2 separate regions of the Homo sapiens genome follow, and region 2 is linked to region 1. The links come from fine-mapping of genetic effects on gene expression. A gene starts in region 1. The other region holds a variant in brackets. All regions are shown on one strand. Distances are between the middles of the regions.

Region 1 (4,384 bases):
AAAATTAGCCGGACTTGGTGGTGGGTGCCTGTAGTCCCAGCTACTCGGGAGGCTGAGGCAAGAGAATTGCTTGACCTGGGAGGCAGAGGTTGCAGTGAGCTGAGATCGCGCCACTGCACTCCAGCCTGGAGATAGAGCGGGACTCTGCCTCAAAAAAAAAAAAAAAAAAAAAGTCGAATTCTTTTTTTTTTTTTTGGAGATGGAGTCTCACTCTGTCACCCGGGCTGGGGTGCAGTGGCGCAATCTCGGCTCACTGCATCCTCCACCTCCCAGGTTCAAGCAATTCTCTGCCTCAGCCTCCTGAGTAGCTGGGATTACAGGCACCTGCCACCACGCCCGGCTAATTTTTTTATTTTTTTATTTTTTTTAGTAGAAACAGGGTGTAACCATCTTGGCCAGGCTGGTCTTGAACTCCTGACCTTGTGATCCACCCACCTCGGCCTCCCAAAGTGCTGGGATTACAGGCGTGAGCCACCACACCCGGCCCCCGGAGTCGAATTCTTAAAAACAGAAAGTAGAATAGTGATTGCCATAGGCTGGGGGGCGGGGGGTGGTGGAAGAGGGCAGATGCTGTTTAATGGGGGCGGGGGTCCGTTTTGCAAGGTGAAAGGTTCTAGAGATCTGCTGCATAACTGGGTACGGCCATGAACACAACTGCACTTGCACCTGAACGTGGCTGAGGCAGCATTCTAATTGTTACAGGGTTTTTCTCTTTTTCTGTTTTCTTTTCTTTTCTTTTTTTTTTTTGAGATGGAGTCTCGCTCTGTTGCCCAGGCTGGAGTGCAGTGGCGCGATCTCGCCTCACTGCAAGGTCTGCCTCCTGGGTTCACGCCATTCTCCTGCCTCAGCCTCCGGAGAAGCTGGGACTACAGGTGTCTACCACCACGCCTGGCTAATTTTTTTGTATTTTTTTTAGTACAGTCGGGGTTTCACTGTGTTAGCCAGGATGGTCTCGATCTCCTGACCTCGTGATCTGCCCGCCTCAGCCTCCCAAAGTGCTGGGATTACAGGCGTGAGCCACCGTGCCCAGCCTCTTTTTCTGTTTTCTTATGGAGAATAGCCCTTCGGTGATCAGAAGAGACACAAGAAGGAAAATAAAGATTGGATGAGTCTCAGGTCCTAGAGATACGGGGTATGTCCGAAGGCCACACAGAGGCTGGTCAGCATGAGGAGAGAGGGTTAGAGGGCGAGGACCTGTTCTGCTGCTTGTACTGGGTCTTGGATATGGGTAGAAGCCTAGATGGAGAGGAGAGAGGTTGATGGTGGTTGTGGCCATGTTGCCCCTTCCTACGGGCGGGGCGGGGGGTGTGCCCTCTGCTTTAAGTTGGGCTCCAGGGGTCACAGCTTTGAGTTTCACTCGTAAGCCCATCAGGATGTCTGGAACCTTCAGGGCTGTGGCCCAGGAATGTCAGACGCTGGAAGCCTGGGAACGGAGGAGGCAGAGCCTGCTGTCCACTGGCTGTGAGAGTTGTTGGGGTGGGGACTTGTCCAGGGCCACGAGGCCAGTGCAGTTCTCTGTGTCTCTGTACCCAGCTGGCCTGTACCTGGAGACCCTGAGCCAGAACCCAGGATGGGCCCTGGCCTGGGTGCTGCGGCTCCCTCCATTCTATGCCCCTGGGGGAAGGTGCTCAGTGCGTGAATTGTTCCCTGCCCCAGCCCAGGGGAAAGCTGAGGCCAGGGAGCAGCCAGGATGAAGGTCAGGGCCTCCCTTGGCCCCACCAGACCCAGGGCCGCTTCCCTCCAGCCCCGGCTCCCGTTTGGCTGGAGGTGCCCTGGGCCATTGGCCTGCCCTCGTCAGCGTCAATCTTGCAGTCTCAGCAGCTGGCCTGGGTTTCAGCGGGAGCCATCCTGTAGCTGCAGGTTTGCTGGCAGGCAGAGGGTTGGGCTGGCGGGGGACACTGAGTGCCCCACCTGCTCAGACTCTTCATGCCATCAAGGGGCCAGTCGGGGGGCAGGTGTGAGTGTGACCCTGAGGGCCCTGACCTGCCACTGCAATCCTCACACTCTTGCCTGGGTGGGGCAGGGAGGAGCTGGACCCTGGCTTTGGGAGTCTGGTGGGTAATTAGACCCAGACAGGGAGGGCTCAGTGCGGGTCTGAGGAGGGAACACACGTGTGCAGGCGTGTGCTCCACGGTGGCATGTTGATACGGACCAGCCTGGGCACCAGGCCCCCTCGGGAGCCAGCTTTGCTGTTCTGAGTGGAAGGGAGATCAGGTTTCCCTGAGAAACCCCAAAATAGCCCCCAACTGTGCCTGGCTTCCAGCGGGCAGCCCAGCCCCCAGGCCCTGTTTTGCTCCCTTTCCCCCTTCACCCCCAGCCCATGTCCTGCTGTCTCCTCCCTGAATGGTGGACCCTCAGCCCCTCCTGTACAAGATGGTCAAGCGGTGCCTCATGCATTTGTTCATTCGACCTGTCCTGAGAGTTTGTGACATGCTGGCACGGGGCCAATGTTGAGTCCACCAGGATGGGAGGGTGGCCAGGCTCTGAGCCACTGAGCACCAGCTGGCCAGGATGGGTCTTCAACAAGAAATCTCACTGGTAAGTGATGACAGCATGGGACCAGGGTCCCATGAAGACCTGCTGGAGGGCCGCACCTCTGGGAAGGTAGACTTGGAGCTTGGTCCAGTGAAGAGGGAACAGCACGGGGAACAGCGTGTGTGAGGGTCCCGCCATGTCTCAGCCCTTTCCTGGCCCCCGCACTTAGCCTTCGGTGCCCATCTTCAGGGTCAGGGGAAGCCCAGGCCAAAGCGGGCCGGGAAGGGGCCCTGTGGATAAGGCCGAGAGCCTGTCCCAAAATAGGGCCGGCAGGATTTCCCACCCATAAAAGGCTCTTGGAATCTGGACCCCGGGGACCCCAGGCAGCCAGGCCCAGCTAAAACTCAGCTGCCACCACTGCCCCAGCACTCTGCCCACAGCAGCCCTGGTGTCACCACCCTGCAGAATCCTGTCAGACAACCACCGACATGGTAAGGCTGCTCTCTGTGCCCGATGGAGTCTCTGGTGGGCTGGCTGGGTAGGTTGAGCTGGAACCTGGAGGTGCAATGACCTGCCACGGAGCCTGGGCAGGAAGGGGCTGAGGTAGAAGAGGGGGCCAAGCCCTGCTGCCACCAACACAGCCCTTGTTCCGGGGCCAGGGTGGAGCAGCCCTTTCTGAAAGCTGGCTCCCAGATGGGCAGCAGCAGTGGTGGCAGGCAGGTGTGGCCCGGTGCTGGACTCTCCCTCCGGAATGCCACACAGGCTGGAGCCCAGGGTTCTGCTTCCTGGGCTGTATCCCAATCCTGGGCTGGAAGCCTTTCCCGGGCCAGGGCTGGGCTCCTCCCCACCCTGCTCTCGGCTTCCTTCACCTGCCTCACCTGGTGTCCATTGCCAGGCTCCAGGGCCGCTGCCTGGCCCGCCTGGCCCTGCAGCTGCTGCTGTTCCCTCGCACGCTGGCTCCTGCCTGTCTGGCCCTTGCCCCTGTTAGCTGCCTGGCAGAGCCCTGCTGGCCCTGCAAACCCCTGGCGTGTGACCCCTTGTCCTGGAAGCCTGCTCTCCGCTGGGGGCCTCCTCTCTTACCACTCACCTTGAAAGGCTGCCAATGGAGGAATGGGTGCAGGGGGTACCTCTGACCCTTCCCTGGACACAGGGGCAGAAGGGGCTCCTGGTCAGGCCGGTGCGGGTGTCCCCTGCAGACAGAGCGCCTGTCGGCTGAGCAGATCAAGGAGTACAAGGGAGTCTTTGAGATGTTCGACGAAGAGGGCAACGGGGAGGTGAAGACGGGGGAGCTGGAGTGGCTCATGAGCCTGCTGGGTATCAACCCCACCAAGAGTGAGCTGGCCTCAATGGCCAAGGATGTGGACAGAGACAGTGAGCTCATGGCTGGAGTGGGGTGGGCAGCCTCGGGGGGGCCCTGGGTCAGGTGTCAGTGCCTACGGGGGGAAGAGGCAAAGCCCATGGGGAGTGCTGTGCCCCATCCCTTGAGCCCCAGCTGTGCCCCTTGCAGACAAAGGGTTCTTCAACTGCGATGGTTTCCTGGCACTAATGGGAGTTTACCATGAGAAGGCCCAGAACCAGGAGAGCGAGCTGAGGGCGGCATTCCGTGTCTTTGACAAAGAGGGCAAGGGCTACATTGACTGGAACACACTCAAGTAGGGCCCGGGTTGGGGGCGGGTGGTGGGCGGGCACGGGCAGGGCCGATGGAGTGGCTCAGCGCCAGGCCCCGTAGGTACGTGCTAATGAACGCAGGGGAGCCCCTCAACGAGGTGGAGGCGGAGCAGATGATGAAGGAGGCCGACAAGGATGGGGACAGGACCATCGACTATGAGGGTGAGTGGCCTGGAGCCCTGGGAGCCGTTGGCTGGGCCGGGGCAAGCTGCTGACCTGCCCCTCTGTTCCCAGAGTTTGT
Region 2 (4,384 bases), 110 kb before region 1:
GGTCAGTGTGAGCTGCCTGGCTGGACTCCCAGCGATGGCCAGGGGCTCCTATCTGTAGGCATTACCTTCTCACAGAAACAACTATAAGCACTGCACAAACTACAAAACGAAACACCTGAAAGCATGAAAACAGGAGCAGGTAGAAACTGGAGGAGTCTCCCCTGGGAGAAAAGAAAGGCAGGACATGGTTTGTTCTTAAGGAGCTTTCTCTGAGGAGGGGACTGTCTGTGACAACCCCAGGGCTACAGCCTCACACACAAGACCTGTGGCCAAGGTCTTCAAGAGCCAGTAGACAGATTACTGGGCAACCACAGCCAGAAAGCGAAAGGATAACAACTACAAAGAAGAAAGCCACAGAAAGGGAGTCCCAAACTACACACACGGCTGACCAGATATCCGACACCTGAAGTGCACAGGCATGCAGCCCAGCCAGCGCAGAAAAGCTGAACAGAGGTTTCTGCTGCTGCCACACAAGAAAGACAGAGATAGACTGCCTGATACAATGACACTAAACATCAGTTAGTTCTGGAGAATGTAACCGGACACAAAGTCTCTATGACACAACATTTACAATGTCCAGAATACAATTTGAAATTACTACATGTACTAAAAAAATAGCAAAATGTCACTCAGAATCCAGAGGAGAGATCCACAAGGACCAACCTCAGGAAGATGAGATGCTGGGATCAGCAGACAAGAACTCTAAAGGCAGCTATTAAACTCTCCTTGTGGATGCAAAATAAAACATGCTATTATACAAGGACAGGGAATCTCAGCAGGAAAATAAAAAATTTCTAAATAAAAGCAATAGAAACTCTACAACTGCAGAAGGAATATCTGACATAAAGAACCTGCTGGATAGCCTTAGTTTATCAGAGGTAACAAGTACATGAACTTGAATGGAAATAAAAAGGTTAAAAGCAAGTAAGTGGTGCTAACAACAACAAAAAGGAACAAATCTGAAGAAGTGGGAAAGTGATGAACAAACCCCAGCCCCCTGAGCCTCGGGGACAGCACAGATGCGTGTGTATTGCAGCACAGAGGGGCAGGGACTAAGGACAGAAGATGCATTTGAAGACATGGTCTAAAACTTCCCAAATTTGGTGAAAGACAAATTTATAGATTCAAGATGCCAAAGTGCAATAAATGCAAAGAAAATCACACCGAGGCACCTACGTGCAAACTGCTAAAAACCAAATCTTTAGATTGTTAAAAAAAAAAAAAAAAAAGAAAAATAAATTAAAAAAAGAGTCAACCCATAATTCTAGATATCCAGCAAAAATACCCTTCAAGAATAAAGGCAAAATATAAATCTTAGAGAAATGAACACTAAGTGCTTTGCTAGCAGCAGACCTGAGAACTGCATTAACCATGACTTGTTCCGGGTAGGGCTCCCGGCCGAAAGGACGCCCGCAGAAGGCGCCTTTGCAGGAGAGCGGGAAGGGCACTGGACATGGAAGATCTCTCTGGAGGGCAGAGTAGATTTACTTCATTCTTTTCTCTTTGAGACGGAGTCTCACTCTGTTACCCAGGCTGGAGGTGCAGTGGCGTGATCTCAGCTCACTGCAACCTCCGCTTCAGTTCAAGTAATTCTCCTGCTTCAGCCTCCTGAGCAGCTGGGACTACAAGCGCATGCCACCATGCTTGGCTAATTTTTTTATTTTTAGTAGACACGGGGTTTCGTCATGTTGGCTAGGCTGATCTCAAACTCCTGGCCTCAGGTGATCTGCTTGCCTCGGCCTCCCAAAGTGCTGGGATTACAGGCGTGAGCCAACCATGCCCAGCCTATTTCATGCTTTTCATATTTATTCACATTATAAGACCCCTAATTTCTTAAGAATGTTTAAAGTAAAGAATACAACAATGCATCATGGAGCTAATAACACACACAGGTGTGATGCATATGAAAACCACAAGAGTGAGCAAGGGCAGACAGCAGGCCCGTGTGGCTGTGAGTTCCTTACGTTTCCTATCAACTAGGACCAAGTTAACTAGAGGACCGCGAGACATTGGGAATGTACACTATAATCCCTAAAGACACCACTAAGACATCAGGCAAAATGGTTTACCTACAAAGCCCACAGACAAAGTAAAATAGATTTCTTTAAAAAATCAAGTAACCCAGGCCAGGCGTGGTGGCTCATGCCTGTAATCAAGTAACTCAAAGGAAGGTAGGAAGGGAACAACCAAAAAACAAAAATGAAGGGACAAAAAGGTGGCAAAGTAGCAGAGTTACA[A/G]TAAGAAATATAAATGTGCAAAAGCATATTCCAAAGGCGGGCAGAAAAAACCAAGACCCAACAATGATGCGAGGTCTGTAACAGACTATTTTCAAAGACACAGTTAAGCTGAAAGGACCCCCATGAAGGCAGGACTGACTACATTAGTATCAGAAAAAGCAGCGGTTCCCAACAAAGAGCATTATGAGTGAGAAAGAACAGTTCATCATGAGAGCAGGGTCACAGGGTCAATTAATCACAAAGAGACAACAAATGTAAAGGCATCTACTAAAAGAGCTCAAGATATCTGAAGCACAGATTGACAGAATTAACAGGAAAGTTAGAAAATCCATAATCATTTTAACAGCCCTGCATGAGCATTTCATAGAAAGACACAGAATATTTGAACATGCCAAAAATCTTGCTCTAATTAACATGTATGTAGAAAATCAGGCCGAGATACAACAAAAACACATATCATTCCCATGTGCACACAGCGCGGCCACCATGACAGACCATCAGCTCCATTAAAAACAAGCCTCAAATGTCAAAGGACTGAAATGATACCAAGTGTGTCTTTAAGCACAATGACATCTAATTAGAAATCAACAATAACTAAGAAAACTTCAGATATGTAAAAATTATACATCTAAATAACCTATAAGTCAAATAAGCACTCACAAGGATATTAAAAATTTCACATTGAATGATAATTAAAATACAATATAGGCTGGGAGTGGTGGCTCAAGCCTGTAATTCCAGCACTTTGGGAGGCCGAGGCAGGCAGATCACTTGCAGTCAGGAGTTCAAGACCAGCCTGACCAACATGGCAAAACCCCGTCTCTACTAAAAATACAAAAATTGGCCAGGCGTGGTGGTGCACGCCTGTAATCTACTCGGGAGGCTGAGGCAGGAGAATCGCTTGAACCCAGGGGGTTGAGGTTTCAGTGAGCTGAGATTGCACCACTGTACTACAGCCTGGGTGACAGAGCAGGACTCCATCTTAAAAAAAAAAAAAAAAGACAATATGAAACAAATGTGTGTGATGTGGCTAAAGCCATGCTTAGAGGGAAACTTAAAACTTTAAGTGATTCTATTTGAAAAGGAAGCAAACCAGTGGCCTACAGATCTACTTCAGGTAGCTGGAAAATTAAGAAGGCAACTCCAAAGTAAGCAGAAGGCAGAAAAGAACAGAGAACAGAAATCAACAACAGCAGCAGCATTATCTTTCAAAGGACAAGGTTAAACTTGTAATCTGGCCAAAATTAACTTATTTAACAGACTGCTTAATGGGTGTCAACTGTAGTACTAGTGACTCCATGAACTGATTTCTTTGGCTGCATGTGAAGTGGGCGGAGTGTTATCAAAAAGTACTGGGGCATAAAATGTCTGAGAACAAATAATACAGCCAGAGAGGTAAAATATTAGAATAGTACATCCTCTTTCAGCAAATGTATGCCTTTCATGATGAATTAGTGTCACAAGTAAATAAAATCTTGGTGAAATAATAGACTACCTAGCACTTACGGCCACAGGGCTCTATTATGCCTCATTTGCAGAGACAGGGTCTCGCTTTCGCCCAGCCTGGAGTGCAGTGGTGCAATCATAGCTCCCTGCAGCCTCAACCACCCAGGCTTGAGCCATCCTCCTGAGGAGCTGGGACCATAGTTGTGTGCCACTGTGCGTGGCTGTTTTTCATTTTTTGTAGAGAAGGGGTCTAGCTTTGTTGCCCCAGCTGGTCTCGAACCCCTGGCTCCAAGCTATCCTCCTACCTTGGCCTCCCAGAGTGTTGCAGTTACAGGCATGAGCCACCATGTCCAGCGCAAATCCACAGGTTTCTTACTGGTAAAGGCATATCAGGCTTGTTTTTAGTTTCATTTTCAGAAAACTTCTGGCCATTACTGTGACTTTTATTTGAACCAGTCTCATTTAATGATTCATAAGGCCGGGCGCAGCGGCTCACGCCTATAATCCCAGCACTTTGGGAGGCTAAGGCAGGCGGATCACAATGTCAGGAGTTCAAGACCAGCCTGGCCAATACAGCAAAACCCCGCCTCTACTAAAAATACAAAAATTAGCTGGGCGTGGTGGCGGACACCTGTGGTCCCAGCTACTTGGGAGGCTGAGGCAGGAGAATCGCTTGAACCCAGGAATCAGAGGTTGCAGTG

Which allele goes with the higher level. Alleles are on the strand shown, and positions count from the first base shown. SD is a standard deviation of normalised expression in the study named.
With allele A in place of G in region 2, the expression in liver of the gene that starts at base 2,491 in region 1 is higher (small effect, 0.28 SD a copy in GTEx).

The links. PIP is the estimated chance that this variant, and not a neighbour inherited with it, causes the effect.
Region 2: its variant is the best candidate, but not a certain one, in a credible set for the expression of CALML6 in liver (GTEx, PIP 0.57).

What each region holds. Positions count from the first base shown.
Region 1 is chr1:1,912,770-1,917,153 of GRCh38, forward strand. CALML6 (calmodulin like 6) reads left to right here and starts at 2,491. Exons shown (of 6, transcript NM_138705.4): 1 at 2,491-2,538; 2 at 2,916-2,966; 3 at 3,672-3,846; 4 at 3,983-4,127; 5 at 4,205-4,305; 6 at 4,378-4,384. The coding sequence starts at 2,512. RefSeq lists an enhancer at 1,312-1,998.
Region 2 is chr1:1,799,543-1,803,926 of GRCh38, forward strand. All of the region lies in intron 7 of GNB1 (G protein subunit beta 1), which reads right to left. Among named protein-coding and RNA genes, the nearest start is that of NADK, 23 kb to the left of the region's middle. RefSeq lists an enhancer at 40-89. The variant A/G (reference allele first, on the strand shown) is at 2,238.